4 linked regions of the Homo sapiens genome follow. The protein of the gene in region 1 purifies or fractionates together with the protein of each later gene. This does not show direct contact. Each region holds a gene or a part of one and is shown on either strand. Other genes may lie near its edges.

What was found. Proteins that work in one complex are often made in the same cells at the same time.
Region 2: the proteins of ALDH1B1 (region 1) and SUFU purify together in Homo sapiens (affinity purification with mass spectrometry; 3 studies listed by BioGRID and IntAct, with this or other methods). This does not show direct contact.
Region 3: the proteins of ALDH1B1 (region 1) and AMBRA1 purify together in Homo sapiens (affinity purification with western blotting; 2 studies listed by BioGRID, with this or other methods). This does not show direct contact.
Region 4: the proteins of ALDH1B1 (region 1) and DHRS4 purify together in Homo sapiens (affinity purification with mass spectrometry; 3 studies listed by BioGRID and IntAct, with this or other methods). This does not show direct contact.

The regions. Positions count from the first base shown.
Region 1 is NC_000009.12:38,391,563-38,395,501, reverse strand, and holds the start of ALDH1B1 (aldehyde dehydrogenase X, mitochondrial precursor), read right to left. Parts: upstream 2,801-3,939; 5' UTR 2,695-2,800; exon of another isoform or gene 1,069-2,694; coding exon of another isoform or gene 937-1,068; intron 1-936. UniProt on the Homo sapiens protein: ALDHs play a major role in the detoxification of alcohol-derived acetaldehyde. They are involved in the metabolism of corticosteroids, biogenic amines, neurotransmitters, and lipid peroxidation.
Region 2 is NC_000010.11:102,611,972-102,615,471, reverse strand, and holds part of SUFU (suppressor of fused homolog), read right to left. Parts: intron 205-3,500; coding exon 70-204; intron 1-69. UniProt on the Homo sapiens protein: Negative regulator in the hedgehog/smoothened signaling pathway. Down-regulates GLI1-mediated transactivation of target genes. Down-regulates GLI2-mediated transactivation of target genes. Part of a corepressor complex that acts on DNA-bound GLI1.
Region 3 is NC_000011.10:46,584,024-46,587,523, reverse strand, and holds part of AMBRA1 (activating molecule in BECN1-regulated autophagy protein 1), read left to right. Parts: intron 1-79; exon of another isoform or gene 80-269; intron 270-3,500. UniProt on the Homo sapiens protein: Substrate-recognition component of a DCX (DDB1-CUL4-X-box) E3 ubiquitin-protein ligase complex involved in cell cycle control and autophagy.
Region 4 is NC_000014.9:23,966,775-23,969,779, forward strand, and holds the end of DHRS4 (dehydrogenase/reductase SDR family member 4), read left to right. Parts: intron 1-35; exon of another isoform or gene 36-297; intron 298-436; coding exon 437-492; coding exon of another isoform or gene 493-496; exon of another isoform or gene 497-909; intron 910-1,982; coding exon 1,983-2,097; 3' UTR 2,098-2,505; downstream 2,506-3,005. UniProt on the Homo sapiens protein: NADPH-dependent oxidoreductase which catalyzes the reduction of a variety of compounds bearing carbonyl groups including ketosteroids, alpha-dicarbonyl compounds, aldehydes, aromatic ketones and quinones.

The sequences.
Region 1 (3,939 bases):
AGGCCTTCCCTGACCACCCTTTAAAAAATTGCAACCCTTCCCACCCCAACACTCTCTATCCCCGCTACCCTGCTTTACTCCTTCTCTATCTCACATCCCAAATACTATCTTTACAGGCTTATATGTTTGTCTGTCTCCCCCCAGTAAAATGCAAGCTCCATGAGCACAGGAACTTATTTTTCTGTTCCATTCACTGCTACGTCCCCGAGCCTAGAGGTATGCCTGCTACAGAGCAGCGGCTCAACACACAGTACTGAATGATACACTGAGAAAACACTGAAATTGCCACAAAGGCTGTCTAAGAATTGACCTAAGACTTGAGTAGAAATCAAAGGGACTTGGAGATGGTTGTTCTCTGAGAGGGACTTGCTTCATTTCACCTCTGTGCCTCAGTTCCCCCATATGTGAAATGCCTCATGGGGTTATGTTGAATGATGTCTTGCATATAAAAACCCTGGCAAGCTCCACTCAGGACATCAGAACTGGCCGTGCCTCAGAAATTGACCTAGCCCAGCATCCCCCAACCACAGGTCTCAGCATCCCTTTTCAGCTTTCCCAGAGGTGCAGCAAGTCAGGAGGCAGCTGAGAAGAAAAGCTACAACTCTGAAGAGTGTAGACTTCGTTAAAACAACTACTGTTATAAAACTTAAACGGCATATAATACATATTAAATGAAAATTAAACAGAGTGTAGTGTTCCCAGATTAGTTGAAGCAGTTATTCTTCAGTCAGAATTTGAATCTCTCTGCCTTTGATGTCTCATGAGTCTTGCTCCGCCCAGCGGTAAAATGGAATTGCACCTGCCTGTCCCTTCACCCCCAGCCTCTCACCCTCCACCCCTGGGCAGGGAGAGGAACAAAAAACTCAATCAGGAAAGCAAGGCTCCATGTAGGTCCCCGGCCCCATAAAAATCAATGTGATGGGCGTGGTGGCTTACGCTGGTAACGCTTTGGTAGGCCGAAGTGGAAGGACTGCTTGAGGCCAGGAGTTTGAGACCAGCCTGAGCACATAGCAAGAACCGTGTCTCTACAAAAAAACAAAAATAAATTTGCCGAGCATAGTGGTGCATGCCTGTAGTTCTAGCTGCTTGGGAGGCTGAGGTGGGGGCAATCACCTGAGCCCAGGAGGTTGAGGCTGCAGTGAGCCATGATTGTGCCACTGCACTCCAGCCTGGGTAACAGAACAAGACTGTATCTAAAAAAAATAATAATAATCAATGCTGACCAAGAAAGTTTCCCTTCCCCTTGCGGGTGTTAGGAATAATGCTCAAAATCCTAAGGAAATTGAACACTCGAACACAGGATTCTTAGCAAAGCAATTTTACTTCTGCGCAGAGGGATGCCTCCTTGGCCAGTTGCCATGAGAGCACACCTGAACAAAGGGGCACGAGAGCCTTTATTCCTGATGCAAGTCCTGCCCCTGTACCCTTTCCCCATTGGCTGGGGTCAGGTCGTACAATCTAAACTAATCCCGGTTGGCTAAACATTTGATTTATTTTAGATAGAGTGGGCACGTAAAAGAAAGTGGAGAGAAAGGGGAAAGGGTGTCTGTAATGAGCTAGAAAGTTAGTCTTCTTTCCAAATAAGCAAAGGAATGTGAGCTGGTACTGATAACGCTTGGTACTGTGGCATGCCTGGGCATCTAACAAAGGCAAAAAGGAGAAAAATGAAAAAAAAAAAGGGGGGGATACTAAGAATTAAAGAATAAAAGATTGATCAGATTATTTGAAGAGAAACCTCATCATATCCCACAGGGGGAAGCTGAGTCAGCAGATCTGCCAGGGGTGCCCAGGGTTCCATTTAGCTCAGGACTTTGCCATATGCTGGGACACAGCCCCCTTGCCACCAACAGGCCTGGCTCTGAGGGTGAGGAGACCAAAAGGAGGTAGGGGAAAGGGGAGTCACCAACCCATGGGGTAAGGATTGGAGGGGTGAAGCAGTCAGGAGAGGTGGTCATAGGCCAAGGCTGGCAAACCTTTGCAGCCACACCAAGGCCGTTCCTACTCTTGGGGCCTATATGGGGTTCTTGCTGGGGCCTCCACTTGCTGATAGGAAGATCACAGCTCACAGAGCATCATGCTTTACAGTTTGCAGGCTGTCTTCTCACGGGAAATTTGCCAAGCCTCTCTGCAGTCCCTGGGTGGTCAGGGTTGATGATGACCCCCATTCTGGAAGAAGGCTGGGCATCAGAGAGGTTCAGGGACTCACCGAGGACACACAGCAAGAAAGTATAGGAGCCTCACCCCAGACTTCCACAAACCTAGCTTTGCATATCCTCCTGAATACAGGCAATTTTTTACAGTTCACCCACAGCGGGAAGGACCGGACCTTCTCTATCCGCGGGAACTGCAGCGGCGCCCACCTCACCCCTTCTGCGGGGGAAAGGGCGCAACCTTTGGGCTTGTCCAAGCCTCTGGGCTATGGTCAGGGGCCCTCTGTTGAAGTGGGCCGAGTGGGCAGGAGTGTTGAGGTCGAGCTAACGTGGTAAGGTCTGGGGGCGTCTGTGTCCTCGGGGCTCCTGTAGCGTCACCCAGAGGCGGGGGATGGGATTAGGGGACGTGGAGAGAGTCCTACAGTGCAACGGCGGAAAGGCCAGCCCCCAGATGCGGACGCCGCGGCCCAGAGAGGAAAGCCCCCACGCGGAGCCAGGAGCTGCGGCTTCCCGAGGGAGCCGAGGGGAGACCAGCGTTAGTTACCTGCAGCAGGCTCGGGCTCCGGTTCAGGATCACGCTTGGGTTCTGGTTCCGGCCCTCCCAGCTCTGTCCACATGGCCGCCCAGGGCTGGCCGCAGGTCCCGCCTCCGCGCAGCCCGGGGCTCAGCGGCCAATGAGGCTCCGCCTGCGCCTGGGGCGCTGCCTACGTCCTGTCGCCGGCCAAGGCCGCTCCTCCCTCGCCCCGCCCGGTCTTTCCCGGTCCCCGCCCCTCTACCCCCGGCAGCCCGCACCGCTTCAGCGCTCCCTCCCTCGGGTCTCCGCAAGCCCAGTGTCCACGTTGCTCAGATCTAGGCTCCTAAGGCACTGGTTTGGGAGCGGAAACAGAGATACCCAGAGAGGGGCAGGGGCTTCCCCAGGTCACACAGCAAAGTTTTCGGAGACCGAACCCCAACTACACTTTGCATTTCTCCCCGCTGCAAGACGCTGCTTAATCGACTGCCATCCTTGAGACTCCCCTTAACCCCTTCTCTGCCTCGCCTCTCCCTCACTTTTTTTGTCCAGGATTCACTAATTTCTGTCCTCCACTTTCACTGCTCCTTTCTTCAGTTCCTTCAAGAAGATTTTATATTTGGGCATTTTTCAAAGTACATTTTTGTCCTAAGGACAAAAAGAATGTATGCACAGTGTAGAAAGCTTGGAAAACACAGGAAAGGATGAAAAAAGAAGAAAAATATCACCTGTAATCTCTTCACCTACGGTAGCCATTATTACGGTGTTCGTCCTGCTAGTATTGTTTCCTCTGCATCTTTCAAAATTATTTTAATAAAAATAAAATCATATAGTAACCTCTGTTGTGCTGCTTTAAAAAAAATTTAAAAACTTAGCGCTGTATTTTGAAGTTTTCTCCTATCACTAATTACAGATGACATCATCCTCTCCAAGGTGGCATAGAATTCTGTTGTAGGGGTAAACTGTTGGACATTTAATTGTCTCCATTTTGTTGCTATAAAGGTTGCCAAGATGGACCACTGAACATGCATCTCACTCGCTCCACCCTCGCTGCACCTTCCTTCTGGCTAGGGAGGTCCCAAAGCTAACCGCCATGTTTCCCAGCCTCATTTGCAGTTAGAGTTCTGGATGTGGACTAGGTGCTGCCAATTAGTAGTACTCTGCCGGATGTGGAAGGCGGGCACGCATTGGAGGGTATTGTCCTGCCCCTGTAGGGTGGCACTAGCAGGATAGCAGAAATGGGAGATGTTCTGCGGCAGCATTCCTTGTCCCTTCTCC
Region 2 (3,500 bases), on another chromosome or scaffold:
CTGAAGTGCCCCCTGGAGGCTGAGCTGGGTGCTGTGGGGTAAACTGTGTGGCAGGGCTGTCTCGCTCACCTTAGGCAGAGAGGAATGAGGGCTCCGGACTCCTGGTTGAATTTCAGATGTACGCTCTCAAGCTGCCGCGTGCGAATCAGCTCATGGGGAATGATGGCCGTGGAGCTGTCACTTTCCAGGCTGTCTTTGCGGCTCCTGTGAAGCAAGCACAGGAAAAGGTTCGGCACAAGGTGAAAAGCTCAGGGAGGAGCAAGATGGGAGTCTCCAGCTGGGCTCCTGAGTAATAAAGACAATAATGGTGACTGATGATAATGATGGTGACAGCCATCATTCTGTATATGCCTGGCGAGCGCCAGCCACTGCACCAAGCACTTCTCACTGACTGGCTACTCCTCACAATGCCCCCAAGAGGTGGCTGCCACCATTGTCTCTTTTTACAGAGGAGGAACTGGGGACAGGGAGGCTAAGTAATTTGCACAGGTTGCACAGCCAGGGAGTGGGCAGAGTTGAGATCCAGTCTCGGGCAGGTCTGATTCTATAAAGCCTGCATCTTTGGCCAACATTCTATTTTTTTTTTTTTTTTAATTGAGATGGTGTCTCGTTCTATTACCCAGGCTGGAGCACAGTGGTGCGATTTCAGCTCACTGCAACCTCCGCCTCCTGGGTTCAAGCAATTCTCCCGCCTTAGCCTCCCGAGTAGCTGGGATCACAGGCATCCACCACTACACCCAGCTAATTTTTGTCTTTTTAGTAGAGACGGGGTTTCACCATGTTGGCCAGGCTGGTCTCGAACTCCTGACCTCAGGTGATCTGCCCGTCCTGGCCTCCCAAAGTGCTGGGATTATAGGCGTGAGCCACTGCACCCAGCCTTTGGTTTTTGTTTTTTTGTTTCGTTTTTTTTTTTTGAGATAGCATCTCGCCGTGTCACCCAGGCTGGAGTGCAGTGGCACGATCTTGGCTCACTGCAACCTCCGCCTCCCAGGTTCAAGCAATTCTCCTGCCTCAGCCTCCCAAGTAGCTGGGATTACAGGGACCTGCCATCATGTCCAGCTAATTTTTTTGTATTTTTAGTAGAGACAGGGTTTCACCATGTTGGCAAGGCTGGTTTCAAACTCCTGACCTCAGGTGATCTGCCTACCTCGGCCTCCCAAAGTGCTGGGATTATAGGCATGAGCCACCGTGCCTGGCCCCAACATTCTATATTAAAGTTTATGGCACAGTGGCTTGTCTTTCCCTGTGATCAGCAGGAGCTTCTGGGAGCCCTTCCTCTCCTGCCCTGGAGCCTCTGAGCCCTAGCTCTGAGCACCATGAGATGCGGCTCCAAGAGTTTCTGTCCAGCTGACCCTGAAGGCTCTGAGGATGCACATTCCGCCAACAGCCAGGAGCTGCAGGGACATTCACACCCTTCATCTAACCAGATGATGATACAATCTGTACTGCTGAGTACAAGCTGGGCTCTTACGAGTCAGACCAGTGGGCTTGGCTGGAAAGCAGAACCGGGCCCCCGCCCTGCTGGGCTTTAAGGCCCCAGGAGCCTGTACCAGATTCCTCCTGACTGTGGCCTTGGCACGGTGAGCTGTCACTGCTGCCCCACACTCCCTCCTGCCTGCTCCCCACCAAAAGTGCGGCCCACGGCTGGGACACAGGGTCCCTTTGCATTCTAAGATTTGCTCTTTCAAATTCAGCTGCCCCCACTGACAACCTCTCAAATCTGCCTCAGCCAGAAATAAGAGTTACCCACTGATCCCATTCAAAAGGCCGGATCCTGGTTTGGGCTGTGAATCTCAGAACAATTCCCCAAGTGTCCATCAAAAACTGGGTGAGAAGCTCTAGTTATTTATCATTCAAGTGGCAGGCAGGAGCCACCCAGGATGACAGCCAGACAGCCACTGAGGGGCAGGCCCAACCTCCTCACACGTTGCGGGGCTAGGTGCTGGGGCCTGCAGCCAGGGTGGCACCCCAACAGGCAGGGCACCTCCCCAGGGGAAGGTGTAGGGTCCGCAGGCCAAAGACAGAGGATGGCCCTGTGGCGGCAGTGGGTTAGACGTGCCCCTGAGGTCATGGGCCGTGCCTGCCTGCTGGCCTTCTCCTTGTGAGGACTCACTCCTGGATCTGACTGTTCCTTCACAAAGCGGTCCCTTCCTCTGCTTTCCTAAAGCCAGCTCTAAAACTGCCTTTTCCCCTGGCTTCGCCTTTGCGCAAGACCTGTGAAGGAGACAAATGCTATGGCCAAGAGGGTCACAGTATTCAGGACTGGAAGGAAACTCTGAGGTTGTTTAATCTCCCTCTTTCCTTTACAAAAGAGAGTGGGTGACGCGTCCCCCCTCACCGTGCGTCAGACTTCTGATCGAAGCCTCAGACTTCCGACCAACTCTCTTTCCCTTCCACCAGGGCCACTGCACCTCCCTTCCTTCTGAGGGAGGCAGCAGTCACAGGTGAGGGCTCAGTGGAGACATAGGGTGCCCTCAGGGCCCAAACAAGAGCAGAACTCAGGAAGCAGTGTTTCCTGAGCCATGTTTCCTGAGCCCTTACTCTGCGCCAACCCTCTGCTAAGGCCATAGGTTCACTCGCTGATTCCTCCCAGCAAGCACGAGGTAGGCTCTGTTGTCAAGCCTTCTTTCACAGAGGAGGTAACTGAGGCTTAGGGAGGTGAGGTGACGAGCCGAAGGGCTCAGAGTGAGTTTAAGCGAAAGGACCAGGGGGTGACTCTCACAATCACTCCCCTGTGCCATCTTTGACCACCGGTTCCTGCCTCCAGACACACTACTGTCCTCCTGAGAGGGGCTGAGGCCTAGCTTGTCCAGGCAGGGCGTGCTAGAGAATCCCAGCCTCTATGGTGCAGGCAAAAATGCTCATGAATAGCAATGGGAGGTGGGGTGGGGGCTTGCAGAAAAGAATCAACAGCACACAGGGCTAGAGACGTCTCAAGCTGGAGGGAAAAATAAATTGTTGAAAGTCAGCTAAAGTCACCTTGGTAACTGCCACAACACACTCACCCAGAACCAGGACATCAAACCCAACTGCAAACAGCCTTAAAGAAATGGAAAAGAACTTAATCATCTGAAGAATTAATGTGACAAGTGCCCACATTTACACCTCCCACCAACCTTCAATCATTTGAAACTGTACTTTAATCTTTTAAGAGAAAAAAAAATTGCAAAATGCAAGATTTGCAGTCCTGGAGCTTGGGTATTTCCGGCATGCTGCTTCGATGGAAACGCGGCTGCTATACACACACACACACATGCGCGTGCACACACACACACACACACACACACACACACACACACACAAGAACCCAGTTTTCTGCTGATTTGTTTCTTCTGGACATCGATGCAGAAGCATGAATTATTTGTGTGGGCTAGGTGAGGTATTAAATCTGCAGCCGACACAGGTTTGCAATGTTTTGCATGGTTGTCAGCTTAATCTTAGTCATAAAAAATAAGTAGTGTGCTCGGCAGCATGGCCTAATTTTTCAGCTGGGCTGTTTT
Region 3 (3,500 bases), on another chromosome or scaffold:
CTTCATTTAAGATTGATTGCTACATGTAATATGTGTCTGATATTTAATGTATGATAATACTGGGTTTTACATAGTCAAGGATAACTAGGACTTATAAATATCTAGCATGCTTGACTAATGAGTTTAATTTTTTACTTTTTTTTTGTGGCAGGGTCTCACTCTGTGGCCCAGGCTGGAGTGCAGTGGTGCAATCTTGGCTCACTGCAGCCTCCACCTCCCGGGTTCAAGCGATTCTCGTGCCTCAGCCTCCCGAGTAGCTGGGACTACAGGTGTGTGCCACCACGTCCGGCTAATTTTTGTATTTTGAGTAGAGATGGGGTTTCACCATGTTGGCCAGGCAGATCTCGAACTCCTGACTTTAGGTGATCTGCCCACCTTGGCCTCCCAACATGTTGGGATTATAGGCGGGAGCCACTGTGCCTGACCTGAAGTTGTGTTTCTTTAAAATGAGCTGAAGCAAATTTTATATTTCATGATTTCATCACTTATTTCTACTCTCTAGAATAGATCACAGGTATATATACCTATAGTATAATGAAGCATCTGAAATTTTGCTGAGTTGGAGAGGATTAATAAGCACATTTGATTTGCAGAGAAAATTGGAGTATTTTATTCTAGGCGACCACTGAAAACAGGACAGAAAAATATCTCTCCCCAGACTTTTGAATAGCAGCATAGTGGCACTGAGTCCTGGAGCCAAGCAGCCTGGTTCAAATTCCAGCACCCCTGCTTACTAGCTATACAACTTGGGCAAGTTACTTAGTCTCTCTGTGCCTCTCCTCATCTGTAAAATACCATACAGTTGTTGTAAGAACTAAATTAGTTAATATGTATAAAGCATTTAGAACAGCACTAGGTGCTGTATATGCCAGTTGTTAGTAACAATGTTATTATAACAAAATAAAGTTTTCCAAAAGAACACATGATAATGATTCTTAGATTGAAGTTTAGATGCTTTGGGAAAACTTTAATAGGGAATAGGAAGTTAAAACAGCATATTTGTCCCTCTTTCCCCACAGTACCCTTCAAAATAAAGTAAAAGGATATAGGTTCAAATCCTAGCTAGGAAAAAAAAAGTAAAAAGATGGATCTTTATTTTTAATTAAAAAATTATTTTTTTATTATTTTTTGGAGACAGTCTTGCTCTGGTGCGGTGGCACAATCTTGGCTCATTGCAGCCTCTGCCTCCTGGGTTCAAGCGATTCTTGTGCCTCAGCCTCCCGAGTAGCTGGGATTACAGGTGTGTGCCACCACACCTGGCTAATTTTTGTATTTCTTTTAGTAGAGTCAGAGTTTTGCCATGTTGGCCAGGCTTGTGTTGAACTCTGGCTTCAAGTGATCTGCCCACCTCGATCTCCCTAAGTGCTGGAATTACAGGTGTGAGCCAGTGCGTCCAGTTTTAAAAATCATTATTATTTTCGGCTGGGTGCAGTGGCTAATGCCTGTAATCCCAGCACTTTGGGAGGCTGAGGCGGGTGGATCACCTGAGGTTGGGAGTTCATGACCAGCCTGACCAACGTGGAGAAACCCTGTCTCTGCTAAAAATACAAATTAGCTGGGTGTGGTGGTGCATGCCTGTAATCTCAGCTACTCGGGAGGCTGAGGCAGGAGAATAGCTTGAACCCCGGAGGCGGAGGTTGTGGTGAGCTGAGATCATGCCATCACACTCCAGCCTGGGCAACAAGAGCGAAACTCCGTCTCAAAAGAAAAAAAAAATTATTGTTATTTTCCAATTATAAAAGTCTTTATGCCTGGTGTGGTGGCCCACACCTTTAAACCCAGCAATTTGGGAAGCTAGGAATATATATATATATATATATATATATATTTTTTTTTTTTTTTTTTTTTTTTTTTTTTTGAGATGGAGTCTTGCTCTGTCACCCAGGCTGGAGTGCAGTGGCGTGATCTCAGCTCACTGCAACCTCCGCCTCCTTGGTTCAAGCGATTCTCCTGCCTCAGCCTCCTGAGTAGCTGGGACTACAGGCGTGTGCCATCACGCCTGGCTAATTTTTGTATTTTTAGTAGAGTCGGGCTTTCACCATGTTAGCCAGGATGGTCTCGATCTCCTGACCTCGTGGTCCACCTGCCTCGGCCTCCCAAAGTGCTGGGATTACAAGTGTGAGGCACCATGCCCAGCGTTTTTTTTTTGGAATTATTTATTTATTTATTTATTTTTATTGATCATTCTTGGGTGTTTCTCGCAGAGGGGGATTTGGCAGGGTCATAGGGCAATAGTGGAGGGAAGCTCAGCAGATAAACAAGTGAACAAAGGTCTCTGGTTTTCCTAGGCAGAGGACCCTGCGGCCTTCCGCAGTGTTTGTGTCCCTGGATACTTGAGATTAGGGAGTGGTGATGACTCTTAACGAGCATGCTGCCTTCAAGCATCTGTTTAACAAAGCACATCTTGCACCGCCCTTAATCCATTTAACCCTGAGTGGACACAGCACATGTTTCAGAGAGCACAGAGAGCACAGTCGCCCAGGCTGGAGTGCAGTGAGTGGTGTGATCTCAGCAACCTCTACCTCCCAGGTTCAAGCGTTTCTCCTGCCTCAGCCTCCTGAGTAGCTGGGTTTATAAGCACCCACCACCTCATCCAGCTAATTTTTGTATTTTTAGTAGAGACAGGGTTTCACCATGTTGGCCAGTCTGGTCTTGAACTCCTGACCTCAGGTGATCCACCCATCTCAGCCTCCCAAAGTGTTGGGATTACAGGTGTTAGCCACTGAGCCTGGCAACAATTTTTTAAAATTAGCTGGAAATGGTGGTGCATGCCTGTATTTCCAGCTGCTTGCGAGGCTGAGGCAGGAGGACTGCCTGAGCCTAGGAGATCAAGGCTGCAGTGAGCCAAGATCACACCACTGCACTCCATCCTGGGCATCATCATGGCAAGACCCTGTCTCAGAAAAATTAAAAAAAAAATTCTTTCTAGTGATTATAGCAGAGTGTGTATTTTTCAGTCATTCATTTGTTTTTTTTGTTTTTTTTCTTTTTATTATTATTATTATACTTCAAGTTTTAGGGTACATGTGCACAATGTGCAGGTTAGTTACATATGTATGCATGTGCCATGCTGGTGTGCTGCACCCACTAACTCGTCATTTAGCATTAGGTATATCTCCTAATGCTATCCCTCCCCCCTCCCCCCACCCCACAACAGTCCCCAGAGTGTGATGTTCCCCTTCCTGTGTCCATGTGTTCTCATTGCTCAATTCCCACCTATGAGTGAGAACATGCGGTGTTTGGTTTTTTGTCCTTGTGATAGTTTACTGAGAATGATGATTTCCAATTTCATCCATGTCCCTACAAAGGACATGAACTCATCATTTTTTATGGCTGCATAGTATTCCGTGGTGTATATGTGCCACATTTTCTTAATCCAGTCTATCATTGTTGGACATTTGGGTTGGTTCCAAGTCTTTGCTATTGTGAATAGTGCCGCAATAAACATACATGTGCATGTGTCTTTATAGCAGCATGATTTATAGTCCTTTGGGTATATA
Region 4 (3,005 bases), on another chromosome or scaffold:
GGGAAGTCTCTCTCCCCATCCCTCCTCTCAGTTACCATGAGGATGGGCAGTTTCTTCCCTTTCCGTTCTTCACTTTCCTCTTCTTAAACATAAAGAGATTTCTGGGTGGGGTGGCTCATGCCTGTAATCCCAGCACATTGGGAGGCCGAGGCGGGCAGATCACGAGGTCAGGAGGTCGAGACCATCTTGGCTAACACGGTGAAACCCCGTCTCTACTAAAAATACAAAAAATTAGCCGGGCGCAGTGGCGAGCGCCTGTAATCCCAGCTACTCGGGAGGCTGAGGCAGGAGAATGGCATAACCCGGGAGGCGGAGTTTGCAGTGAGCCAAGATAGCGCCACTACAGTCCGGCCTGGGCAAAAGAGCAAGACTCCGTCTCTAAAAAGAAAAAGAAAAAGAAAAAAAAAACATAAAGAGATTTCCCTTCTTCCTGCAGCTCTGGATGGACAAGGAAAAAGAGGAAAGCATGAAAGAAACCCTGCGGATAAGAAGGTAAACTGTCATGAGGGCAAGGGCACTAAGAGACATGAAGATGGGAAGGTCTGGTCCCTAGCAGCCCACAGCCCGCTGTCTCAGTCCCACAGATAACACAGGCAGGCTCTCTTCTGCCTCACAGACCACGAATTCATAAACACTATCACTACAGTGACCTGAGCAAGAAGTCAGCTTCCCTTTCAAAAGGTAAACACAGAGACATCGGGGTTTCAGCAGTGCAGAGCTCTGGGAGAAGCCCTGAGTCCTCTCTCCACCTGGGGGATTGCCTCCACCTCTGAGCATCCATGGAGACCAGGGACCATAACCAAAACCATGCTTTGTTAGTCCCCTTGAATAATGACACATGTTTACAAAACTCAGGTTGATGATCTACAATCCAAATGAAAAGAATGAAGAGTTTTACTAAGCCCCAAACTCCCCTTGCCTAAGGAGTTACTTTCTTCCCCAGTGAGCTGGGTGAACTGTTCAAGCACCTTTGTCGGGCTCCCTTTCCTCTAAGTTCCCTGCCTCTCTCTACCTTCTGGCTTCAAGGACAAATGCCAGTAATGCCTAACTCTGTACTCGTCCAGACATCCCAAATCTTCCCAAAGCCATTCTGATGTGAGACATGAGCTGCAGGCCTGGTTCATAACTCATTAATAAGTGAGGGGATTGTCAACCTAGAGCACCAATGAATGATCTAGCCCATGTAGCTCAATACTGGATTCACATTAGAATCACCTGGGGAGCTTTTTAAACTGCAGGTGCTCAGGCCCCACCCACTCCCAGAGATTCTTTTTAATTGGTCCAAGGTAGGACTTGACCATCTGGGCTTTTGTTTTTCTTTGTCTTTTCTTTTCTTTTCTTTTTTGGTTTAAGCCTCTCAAATGATTGCAAGATACAAGTAGAATGGAGAAGCATTAATTCAGCCCTTCTAGGTTTGAGTTACTCACTCTGCCCACCTCTAGAGCATTCTATGGCAGGGAGATTAAAGTGTCTCCTAACTATGCAGTCACTGATAAAATAAGAATTAGCACATTCTCACTAAATGAACCTGACTTTAAGGCACAAGTATAGATTCCTGAAAAAGTTCTAAGCTGAACCTGTACAAATGGAATCATTTTAAACACACCATTTACTGTCACACAGACTCCCTGATACTTTAGTGTGTGCACATGTGAAACCATTTTTTTGAAGTATGAAATAATTGCTCACCATTTTATCTATATAACTTTGGATTTTGGTGTCCTGAGCTCTCTAAAAACCGGTGTGTTTCTATAGTATTTGAATATTATGGGTAATAGTTTTGCAGAGTACAGTATGCTTATACTAAATTATAACAGCATATCCTCGTGGTAACCCTATTTGATAGGCAGAAAGCTTGTACACTGACCCTGAAAAAGCCATCTGATAATTCTTGATTAAGCAAATTTAACTCCCTGTGTCCCAGGTGAGGGAGGCAGAACTGTTTGATTTTTACCTCCTTCCTTGCTTCCCTTATTCCCCAGGTTAGGCGAGCCAGAGGATTGTGCTGGCATCGTGTCTTTCCTGTGCTCTGAAGATGCCAGCTACATCACTGGGGAAACAGTGGTGGTGGGTGGAGGAACCCCGTCCCGCCTCTGAGGACCGGGAGACAGCCCACAGGCCAGAGTTGGGCTCTAGCTCCTGGTGCTGTTCCCGCATTCACCCACTGGCCTTTCCCACCTCTGCTCACCTTACTGTTCACCTCATCAAATCAGTTCTGCCCTGTGAAAAGATCCAGCCTTCCCTGCCGTCAAGGTGGCGTCTTACTCGGGATTTCTGCTGTTGTTGTGGCCTTGGGTAAAGGCCTCCCCTGAGAACACAGGACAGGCCTGCTGACAAGGCTGAGTCTACCTTGGCAAAGACCAAGATATTTTTTCCCGGGCCACTGGGGAATCTGAGGGGTGATGGGAGAGAAGGAACCTGGAGTGGAAGGAGCAGAGTTGCAAATTAACAACTTGCAAATGAGGTGCAAATAAAATGCAGATGATTGCGCGGCTTTGAATCCAATTGACCTGTTCATTTCTCAGTGTTGGGTGCTTAGCTGAGCAGAGAGCAGAAGTCTATTCAGGCTGGATCTCTGGATCCCCCAGCCCTCCTCCCTGTCTCCAGAACTTGAGCGTGATGTTCACGGGTGGAGGTGTCTGCAGAGCTGCCAGCTGGAAGGAAGGTGGCACGGGAACTCCCAGGACGCCACGGGAATCCCCGAGGCAGCGCGAGCCCGGAGAGAGTGGGGAAGGATGAACTCTCTAACACCTCCCCGCCCCTTGCCTCCCAGATCAGGCCAGGTCCTCTCCCCGCATGGCCCTACGACCCGAGTTCCCTCCCGAGTCAGCAAGTACAAGCTGGATGGGTCCTGAGCCGGTGGGGAATAGAGAAAGGCCCTGCAAGGTACCCAGGCCCACAAACAAAAGCAATGGGTTCTGCCCACGGGCCCGAGGATTCAGTAGAAGGAAAGTGGGGACGCTGTCCCCCGCCCCAAAGGCACTGACACTGGGCGACACACGCTG